Linked DNA regions of Homo sapiens: region 2 is linked to region 1. The links come from fine-mapping of genetic effects on gene expression. A gene starts in region 1. The other region holds a variant in brackets. All regions are shown on one strand. Distances are between the middles of the regions. Region 1 holds the start of FBLN2 (fibulin 2). Region 2 overlaps FBLN2 (fibulin 2).

The links. PIP is the estimated chance that this variant, and not a neighbour inherited with it, causes the effect.
Region 2: its variant is the best candidate, but not a certain one, in a credible set for the expression of FBLN2 in tibial artery (GTEx, PIP 0.89).

Annotation. Positions count from the first base shown.
Region 1 is chr3:13,546,518-13,551,884 of GRCh38, forward strand. FBLN2 (fibulin 2) reads left to right here and starts at 2,608. Exons shown (of 18, transcript NM_001004019.2): 1 at 2,608-2,691. RefSeq lists enhancers at 3,971-4,579, 4,580-5,186.
Region 2 is chr3:13,605,542-13,610,908 of GRCh38, forward strand. FBLN2 (fibulin 2) reads left to right here. Exons shown (of 18, transcript NM_001004019.2): 3 at 2,521-2,632; 4 at 3,972-4,101. Among named protein-coding and RNA genes, the nearest start is that of SNORA93, 10 kb to the right of the region's middle. The variant A/G (reference allele first, on the strand shown) is at 2,298.

The DNA of each region.
Region 1 (5,367 bases):
ACAATCCTATAAGGCAGGAACTTCTTTATAGGCTAGGACACTGAGGCCAGAGGGTTGAAGCCACCTGCTGAAGGTCATACAGGGAGGATGTGGATTTAAATCAAAGCCATTGGGTCCCAGAACCCATGCTCCAACGTAGGCAGCCTCCCCAAGGCTACCCAGTGAGGATGCAGACCCAGGAAGCTCAGCAAGGCTTCTCTTCCCAATCCAGGCTGCACAGGTGGGACAAGTGAGCCTCATGCCTGCTGGCCCTGGCGCCTCAGTGCCCAGGGAGCTGGTGAGATTGTCACTGATGTAAATAACTTCGCTGCCCACTGTGATCATTCTGTCTAGGCCTTATCAGCCTGACTTCCTCCAACCATTTCTCAGCCAGGCCCTGGGCCCCAAATTCCTGGTGGGTGATGCGTGCTCTGTCTGCGATAACAGTCTTGGAAGGGCTCTGAAGGGACAGCCGCTTTGGCCGCATCTCCGGCTCAGATAACAGGACGGGAGAAGTGTCTCCACTTTATCTTGTGGAAGGCGGGCCAGGCCTTGGGCTCCCTGGGCTGCAGAGTGAGCTGCATCTGGCTCAGTGCCTCTCCTCCCAGGCCTGGGGAAGGGAGCCTCATTAGCAGCTGCCCAGGGTCTCTATCACCCCAGGCCACTGCCCCTCCTTCCCCCACAGGAGGAAGGATTCAATCTGTCATTTACTCATCAGATATTTACTGAGCACTCCCTTGGGTCAAGTCCCATCCAAAGTACAGATAATCCCTGACTTACGATGGTTCGATTTAGGATTTTTTGAATTTAGGATGTTGAGAAAGTGGTACACACCCAGGAGAAACCCTACTTGGAATCCCCAGGCAATCATTCTGTTTTTCACTTTCTGTGCAGTATTCAATGAGTTACATGAGATATTCAATGCTTCATTATAAAATAGGCTTTGTATTAGATGATTTTGCCCACCCGTAGGCTAGTAATGGAAGTGTTCTGAGCACATTTAAGGTAGGCTTGGCTGAGCTATGATGTTCTGTAGGTTAGGTGGATGAAATGCATTTTCAACTTACTATATTTTCGATTTACGATGGGTTTATGGGGACATGATCCCATTATAATCGAGGAGCATCTGTACTTTCGGTTTGGCTCATTTCGGTTCATTTGATCTTTCCAATAACATTATAAGATAGGCTTTGATGTCGTTATGTTCATTTTACAGTTGAGGAAATAAAGCCCAGAGAGGTGAAGTAACTTGCCCAAGGTCACACAGCTGGTGTGTGGTGACTTTCTTAATGACCAGGTGATCCTACCTATAGTCATTTATAAATGAATAAGAGAAATCAGCCAGTGACAAGTACTGTAATAACAGTGCGGCCGAGTCCCAGGGTGGAGAGTGGTAGTTGCTACCTCTGCTGGGGTCTCAGGGAGGGCTTCTCTGGGGGTGGTGGGATTTCAGCTGCATCTTAATGCAGGGATGAGTCAGCCACGGTGGATCTGGGGAAGAGCATCCCAGGCAGAGGGAACAGCAATGGCAAAGGCCCTGAGGGAACAGCAAGCACAGAGCTCCAATGGGGAAACGGGCCCAGAGGGAAGGCACCTGCCTGGGGTTAGACACAAGTTGGGGCAGGCCAGGCACAGGCTGCCAGCTCAGGCTTTGGCCCCTCCATCCGCTCCTGGCTTCTCTGTGGGTGGCCCCATCTAAGCCAATGGGCCCTTCCTGGCTCCACCTCCTCTCTGCTGTGCGGCCCTGGGCAGGCAGCTGCCCTGCCCTGTGCCTTTGCTCTTGGCTGCCTCACCCCTGTCCTGGGCTGCAGGGAGACCCCTGGGGGTGGGGGCAGGCACACTTTGGGCCCATGGCTGCTGCTCAGATGTGAGGTGGTGACCACCAGGCCATACGTCTCTGGACAGGGATGGGAGAGACTCAGAGAGACACAGAGACCAAGAGATAAAGTCAGAGGGAGATGCAGAGACCAAGAGGGACAAACCAAGGGAGACAGAGAGATGACATTAGATCAGAGATGGAGACCCCGAAAGAGACCCAGAAAGGGATCGGTGTGGGCTGGGGGAAGAGACACCCCGGGGGTCACACAGTGGTCACAGGCATCAGAGCTGGGCTGAGGAAAAGGACAAACTGAACCTGTTCCAAAGCTGGGGGCTCAGTACCGTCTGCCCAGGCACATGCAGCAGCAGTGGGGCTGCAGGCAGGCCCCCAGGGTAGGAAGCAAGGCGGGTGGGAGGCAGGGCCTGGCCTCTGGGCAGTTTTGTAGCCGGGCCCCTCAGGCCCTCACAATGTGCCCAAGGCTGCTGGGCCCATCTTCCAGGGGTGATCACTGAGGCTCAGGCTGGCTGAGGTGGCCGGACCCCAACCCCTGGCCCTGCCCTGTGGGCAGCAGTGCCAGGTCTGGCACTCAGAGGTTAGGCCGGGCGCAGGGAGGGTGCGGGCTCCGCAGCGAGCGCGCCGGGCGGCCTCTAGGAGCCGGGTCAGCGAGTCTGGGCTCTGAGCGAGCGGCGCCGGCCCGGCCCCCTCTCCGGCGGGCGGCCGAGACCCCGCCCCGGAGGCGGAGGCGGAGTCAGGGGAGGGGGCCGGGGGCCGGCTGGTCCCGCCTCTCGCGCCTCCGCCCCGCCCCGCGCGCACACAGCCAGGGGCCGCCCGGGCTCTCGACGCGCCGACGGCCGGGCGGACGGACGGACGGACGCCGAGCGCAGTGCCCCGCGGTGAGTGCACGCGGCCCCTCCCGCCCGGACTCATCCCCGTCGGTCCGCGCCTCGCAGCTCAGGACTCGGGGGCGCTCGGACGCACCGACGGCTCGGCGGACCCTCGGACGCGCCTCGCGGGCTGCCCGCGCCTCCACCCGCGCCGCCGGTCCGACCGGGTCTCGCTCTCCCGGTCCCAGCGCGGGGACGGCCCGCGAGCGCCGCGACCCAGTGTACAGATGCGGGCACAGAGGCCGGCGCGGGGTGGGGGCCAGGGGTCCGCGGGCGGGTTCCCCCACCCCAGGTCCGCAGCTTCCTCCGCTCTGGGTTTCACTTCTCCCCCCTGGGCCGGCTCCCACCAGTCATCCCCTCTGGTCCCACTGCCCACCCCCACCCCGACCGCAGGACCTTGCCGCCCCTCCAGTCCAGAGGGCCGGGTCAACCCCCTCGGGGAAAGAAGACTAGAGTCCCTGGTCTAACACTACCCCCTCCATCACCCCCAAGTCACACTCACCGCCACACACGCACTCACACAAGCAGAAGTTTCTGCACGCTCTGCATTGGCGCGCCCACCCTGCCTGTCACCACATCCTCCCTCTCCCAGCCCCATGCTCACCCCGCCAGCTCCCCCAGGCCAGAATCTCTCACACTCATCTCACGTCCCCTTAGCACACAATGCTCCACACACACATGCCTTGCACATTGGCACCCCTCCGAGGCATGCCTCTAGCAGACAGTTGTGTCTCTGATAAACACATGTGCCCTTACTGCCCTCTGACACGCACACACGTCCGCCACACAGGGGTAGCTATCACATGCATATCTCCATCATATGTATCACACATGTGTCTCTCACATGCGTGTGCTCCTCAAATACCTGGAATCACAAACACTGGGAGTGCCACACACTGTGAGTCTCACATACGAGTCACAGACCCCCACGACTTCACAGTCCCAGCCCCCCTGGCACTCCATGGGCAGTCCTCCCCTGTCCTAGGGGGTGGGGAGCCGATTTTGGAGGAGGGAGGTGGTTCCTCCTGACAGAGGCTGCTTACCATGGGACCTGGGTGGCTGTGGGGAGCATGGGGGTGGCTCAGCCTCAGGCTGGGCCTGACTCCTCACCTCCGTGCATCCTCTCTCCCTTCCCCTGCTCCAGTCTCCGAAATAGGGGTGCCCTCCCTCCCTTTTTTGCTGCCACAAGGAGTTGCCCATATCAGCTTTGCAGTGATCACTTGGGCCAGTCCCAAGCAGGCCTGAGCCAGCAGGCGTCCCCTGACAGGCCAAAAAGAGAAAAAGGGAAGTCAAACAGGATGGTTTGGGTGCTTGTGTCTACCCTGATGCCCCTGAGATGCTGGTCCGGGCCCTCCCAGAGGGAGCCCTGATGAATTGGGTGGCAGCTGAGAAGTGTTCCCTCAGCCTGGCATGGATTGGGAGCTGGTGTGTGTTTGTGGCTGATAGGGGCTCTGGGCCTTAACTTCCCCATATGCCAAATGGGGTGAAGACTCCCCAGCAGGAGGAAGAGAGGGAGGGGGAGCTACTCCCCTGGGGTGCACCCTTGACTTCCCGCCCTCCCCTTCTGCAGCTGAGCTGTGTGATGGGGGTGAGCAGGGGATGAAGTCAAAGAATCTTATTCTGGAGGCACAAACCTGCCAGCCCCGGCTGTGGCTGGCCCTGCATGTTTTGTTTGGCTCTCACCATGTTATTATTATTTTAAAAAATTAATTAGCTGCCTGCATTTACAAATTGGCAGTTTTCACGTAAAAGTCCGGATTTCCGTCTTCTCTTGAAAAGTCACAAGGTCTGGTAGTTCAGGATCTGCATCTCCTGGCTGGTGCTGCCCACCCCCAACCCAGGGGATGGGGCAGGGGCGCTGTTTGGTCCCCGTCCCCACCTGGCCCTCTCATGCCTTCTCAGCTCCTGCCTGGCCTGCGTGGCCTTTGTGCGGCTGTGACTGCTGCATGCATTGGGCTGATTTTGCTCCATTGCCCGCCTCAAGCATAGGCCCAGGCTGGTCCTCCATGCATGGCTGGGGAAGCCCTGGGCGGGCCTCCTACCCTTCGAGGCCTTAGTCGTTGAAGCAATGAGTGGTGCCCAGGGCCCTGGGCCACAGGGCATCTTTGTGATGGTGGCAGACACTTCCTGCTAGGCTGTGGGGGACGGTGGTATGGGGACCCCGTGAAGCAAGAGCTCATGCCAGAGAGCATTCTCCGAGGCAGGCTTTATTCATCACTTTTCTTCCCAGATCCCGACATCCCTCCTGCAGGGTGGAACTCTTGCACCTATTTAAGAGACGGGGAAGGGGAGGTAGAGAAAGGGCCTCCCAGCAGGCAAGGGGGAGAGCTGGGGTTCAGCCCAGGATCTTTTCCCTCCAAAGCAAAGCTCTTTGCCCCTCTTACTGAGCCACTAGTGGGAGGACTTGGTCTCCTTGGCCGTGGGGGGAGTGCCCTGAGCCCATCCACACCTCACACGCAATAGGTGCTTCGTAAATGCTTGGGGCATGCTGATGGTAAGTGAAACTGGGTTCTCTGCAGCAAATTCGGGCCTAAGGTGAAGATTGCACAGCCACTTGACCTCCATCTCTTGACCTCGTGATCCGCCCGCCTCAGTCTCCCAAAGTGCTGGGATTACAGGTGTGAGCCACCGTGCCCGGCCCCTCCTTTTTTTTTTTTTTTTTAAAGACAGGATCTCGTCCTGTCT
Region 2 (5,367 bases), 59 kb after region 1:
CTATTGTTTCTGACAGCTCCTGCATGTAGCATGGCCCCAGATTTTCCTCATCCTCCCCCCCAGTGATGGACACCCAGGCTGTCCGCAACCCCTTTCCACAAATAACACTTGACATGGGCATCCTTGTACTGGTTGTGTTACGGGCTGTCGTGAGGACTTCCCTGGCACAGACACCAGGAGCAGAGCGTCTGGGTCCTTGATGTTGCGTGTGCTTAACTGTATAAGTGGTGCCACATCTCTCCAGCTGGCCGCAGTCTCCTCTCCCACCCTAGACACATGGACATGCAGCAGTGTAGAGGAATACAGCACTAAGGGAGAAAAGGGGGTCCCCACCTCTGTGTGGCATTTCTCACTCTTACTCATATTTCTAGTTTAATGGATATTTTATTATTATTTTTTGAGACAGAGTCTCATTCTGTCACCCAGGCTGGAGTGCAGTGGCTCCATCTCAGCTCACTGCAACCTCCAACCCCCCTCCCCATCCCTGGGCTCAAGCCATCCTCCCACCCCAGCTTCCCGAGTAGCTAGGCTAACTTTTTGTGGAGTTGGAGATTCGCCATGTTGTCCAGGCTGGTCTCGAACTCCTGAGCTCAAGTGATGAACCCACCTTAGCCTCCCAAAATGCTGGGATACAGGCGTGAACCACCACATCTGGCCTAAGGAGTATTTTACTTTGGAGTTCTTTTTTCTCTTGTTAATTTTCAGGAGTTTATTATGTTTTGTAGATGGCAATTCCTTGTCAGTTTTGGACATTCCAGAAACATTTCTTAATATGTCAGCAGTCTATTATATGTGTACATGGAGTTCTTTGTTATACATATTGGAATTTTGAGGTAATCAAATTCATTAATTTTTGTAACCTATAGCCTGTGCCTTTGAGTTTTAAGACATTCTCCCCTACCTTTGACTCCTTCCAGCCTCCCCAGTCACAAATACAGTTGAACCTTGAACAACTCAGGAGTGAGGGGTGCTGACCCGACTAACAGTCAAGAATCCACATGTAACTTTTGACTCCTCAAAAACTTAACTAATAGCTGACTGTTGACAGGAAGCCTTACTGATAGCACAAATAGTCAATTAACACATATTTTATATGTTATATATATTATATACTGTATTTTTTTTTTGAGATGGAGTTTCACTCTTATTGCCCAGGCTGAAGAGCAGTGGAATGATCTCAGCTCACCACAACCTCCGCCTCCCAGGTTCCAGTGATTCTCCTGCCTCAGCCTCCCGAGTAGCTGGGTTTACAGGCATGCGCCACCATGCCTGGCTGATTTTTTGTATTTTTAGTAGAGACGGAGTTTCTCCATGTTGGTCAGGCTGGTCTCAAACTCCTGAACTCAGGTGATCCTCCTGCCTAGGCCTCCCAAAGTGCTGGGATTACAGGCATGAGCCACCGTGCCCGGCTGACTATATTCTGTATTCTTTTCTTGTTGTTGTTTGTTTGTTTGTTTTTTCCCCGGGACGGAGTCTTGCTCTGTCACCCAGGCTGGAGTGCAGTGGCACAATCTCGGCTCACTACAACCTCTGCCTCCCAGGTTCGAGCAATTCTCCTGCCTCAGCCTCCTGAGTAGCTGGGATTACAGGTGCCTGCCACCGTGCCTGGCTAATTTTTGTATTTTTAGTAGAGACAGGGTTTCACCCTGTTGGCCAGGCTGGTCTTGAACTCCTGACCTCGTGATCTGCCCGCCTCAGCCTCTCAAAGTGCTGGGATAACAGGCATGAGCCACCGCACCCAGCCTATATTCTGTATTCTTAAAGTAAGCTTGAGAAAAAAAAATGTTATTAAGAAAATCGTAAGAGAAAATATGTTTACTATTCATGCAGTGGAAGTGGACCATCATAAAGGTCTTCATCCTCACTGTCTTCAGGCTGAGTAGGCTTAGGAGGGGGAGGAGGAGGAGGGGCTGGTCTTGCTGTCTTAGGGGTTGCAGAGGTGGAAGAAACTGCTGTGTTGTTCCAGGGGTCAAGTGTGTATTCAACATAAAACTTCCGTGAATTTCCTGGATGAGCTTAAACTTCCCTTGCTGCCACTGCTGCTGTTTTCGTATCTCTTGCCCTGTCTTAGCATCTTAGGTTGGGTTCCTTAGAAGCAGAGCCTGAGTTGGGGGGTCTTGTGCATGTGTTGGTTCATTTGGGGAGACCTCTCAGGAGAAACTCTGAGGAGTGAGGGATGAGAGGTGGACAAAGCTGTGGCCCACGTGAGGTCTGACCCTGTGGGAGCTCTAGAGTGTGAGTGGCCCCCATAGAACTGGCTGCTTTGAGAGTGGGGGCTGAGCTCTGGCCCCATGTTA[A/G]CCTGTTATGGGCTGGGCTCCTCCCAGCCCCCATAGGGAGGACTCCACCTCGCAGACAGTTCACCAAAGACAGTTGTGTTGTGAGCTGTTAGCGACCAGCATGCACAGCAGCAGGGGTGGATGAGTTTGCCTGCCCAGTAAAGGAGACCTGGACAGGCCCCTGCATATCTGCTGGACTTGGTGACTTATGAATGGTGACTCTGCCTCATGTTGCTATCCACAGGCTCCACCAAGGACCTGATCGAGACTTGCTGCGCAGCCGGACAGCAGTGGGCCATTGACAATGACGAGTGCCTGGAGATCCCTGAGAGTGGCACTGAGGACAACGTCTGCAGGTAGGGTGGGCTCCCTGGAGCAGGCGGAGCTGCCCATTTGCCTTCTCCAGAACCCTGCTTGCCTAGGACCCCAGGCTCCAGGCAGCCCGGAGAGAGTGCACCTTCACATGCCTCTGGGGCATGAGGGTGATTGGGTGTGGCTGCCGTGCGCCATCTGGCCAGGCTTTCTCCAGGGGTGGAAAGTCCAAGACTGGTCCTAGGAACAAACCAGCCACATAAATTGGTAGCTGGCCTAGTGAGCAAGATCCGAGGAATGTACAATTTGAAACAAGTTTTAAAGGAGTGCTGTCCCCTAGGAATAGTCGGGTGCTCCCCTCACCACATTCTGCAGTTGCTGCCGCACTCATGCCACTCAGGCTTTCTCTCCTCTGCCCTCTTCCTTTCTCTGCTTTGCTACCCTTGGGTCTTCAGGAGGCTGGCCTCTCACTGTGCTCCCTTGCTGCTGTGCTGGTTGTTTCTTCTGACTCTGATACCACAGCAAAGCAATCCTTTATCCCCATGCCTTCCCTTTTCCAGGCCCAGGAGAGCTCTTGGTCAGCTGCTCATGCTTTGTTTTTTTCCAGGGACCCCGTCTAACCTACTCATTTTTCCAAATAAGAAAGATTAAGTTCAGAGAGGCAGTGTGATTCACTCAAAACTACACAGCTCACTGGCAGCATGGCTGGGATTAGACCCCATGTTTCCCAATGTCCAGACCACTCTGCTTCCTATAAAAAAAATTTATGTTCTAACCTTGTCTTTCCCTTCAGCCATTCTACCAATATGGGGCAACTTAGGAGTTAGAGCATGCAGCACTGGGACCCCTGGAGTTTGGGGCTAAGCGGTCCTAGTGCATGCTTGCATCCGTCTTGTGGACGTGTCCCACTTCAGGGGGTGCTGAGCCCTGTCCCCCGTAATCCCCGCCGCCCTGTCCTGGCTCTGGTCTCTGCAGCTGATTTGTCAGCCACCTCTGCCCCAGGCAGCCCAACAGTGACTGGCAGGCAGTGACCAGGGACCCGGAGGCTGTGCTCCTCCAGGCTGACCTGCCAGCCTTTTCTGGGATTAGGTCTCTCTGTCCTCCCCGACCGTTGTGGGGGTGGGGACTCTGATGCCAACCCCTCTCTCTCAGAGGTCATGAACACACATCTCCGAGTCTAGTGGGACCCAGGCCTGCATCTGCATGGTTAAGCCAAGAAATGAAACCCATGCAACCCAGTGGAGGTTGTGCCGGCTCTGCCACCTGCACCGGCTCCCTTGCTGTGGACCTTGGGCAGAGCTTCCCTCCTCTGAGCCTCACTCACTTTCCACTCTGGGAGGATGAGGTGGGCGACTGGGGGCTAAGTTACCCCCTCTGTTTCAGGACAGCCCAGAGGCACTGCTGTGTCTCCTACTTGCAGGAGAAGAGCTGCATGGCCGGCGTCCTGGGAGCCAAGGAGGGTGAGACCTGTGGGGCTGAGGACAACGACAGCTGCGGCATCTCCCTGTACAAGGCAAGCCTGACCTGTGGCCTTCAAGGCAGGGTGGGGTGGGGCGGGGCGGGAGGCTGGCCTGGGCCTGAAGGTCCTCGTGGCCCAAGAAGTTAGGCTGTCCTTGGGGCTCCTCCTGGGAGTGACCCTCACGCCTGGGGTGGAAGGACTCTTAATCTGCGCAGAAAACATCATCAGTTATTATACTGACCAATTAATTCACAGAATATTTGTAGAGCACCACTGTGTGCCCTGGGCATCAGGGATGTAGCAGTGAGTAACACAGATGGCAATTCCCGCCCTCCCAGGGATTTCTTTCTGGCCAGGAAGACAGAGGAAGATCACGATGAATATTTTAGCACCTGGCGTGGTTGCAGGCGATTGTGCTAAGGAGAAAAACTTAAGGAGAGGTGGGATAAGTAGTGTCAGGGCTGGGGAGGGACTGCAGTATCAGCTGACAGTGGCCAGGGACAGCCTCACTGAGGAGGGGACATTTGTGCAATGCCCGGGGTGGGGGATGTCTGTGAAATGCTTTCAGGCAGAGTGCAGCACATGCAAAGGCCCTGGGGTCAGAGCCTGCTTGGCATGTCTAGGCTGTGTGGCTGGAGTGCATCGAGTGACAGGGGGCAGGTGGAGCTGAGCCCAGAGAGATGTCAGGGCTCCTGGCCATCATCGGAAGGACTGTGGTTTGACTGTGGGTGAGGTGGACCCCATGGGGAGTTTGAGGGTCTCTTCTGGCAGTTGTGGGGACCGGTTATTGAGGGTGTTTCTCTCACATGGGAGGTGGGATTGGGATGGGGTAAAACCCCACCAGGCAACAGTGGTGCAGAGAACAGTGTGAACTAACACACAGGCGAGGACGTTGGGAAATGGGGTGTGTGGTCCAGTGGTCTGGCAGCAGTAGAGACAGGCCACCGGGAGTCCTCAGGCTGGACCATAAAGGACAGTAAATGCTGAGAGCTTTCGGCTTCAAGCAGTGTCTGTAAAGCCGTGGGAGGGATTTGCAGCAGGAGATCAGTTTGTCTACTAGAGCTCATGGTGGCCACTGGCGGACAGGGTGTCAGTTTGGCTACAAGTAATGGAAAACTTCCTGGAACACTGGTTTTTCTCTCATATGCTGCAGGCTGGAGGAAGGCAGGGCTGAGTTAGAGGAGTGAGAGGCTCCATGGTCATCAGGAATGGGGCACAGGCATAGTGGTCTTGCCCTGCCAGCTCTCATTTGCCACCTCTTGGTCCAGGATGAACTCCAGAAAGGGGCAGGAGAGCCCCCTTGTTTTAAATTATTATTAT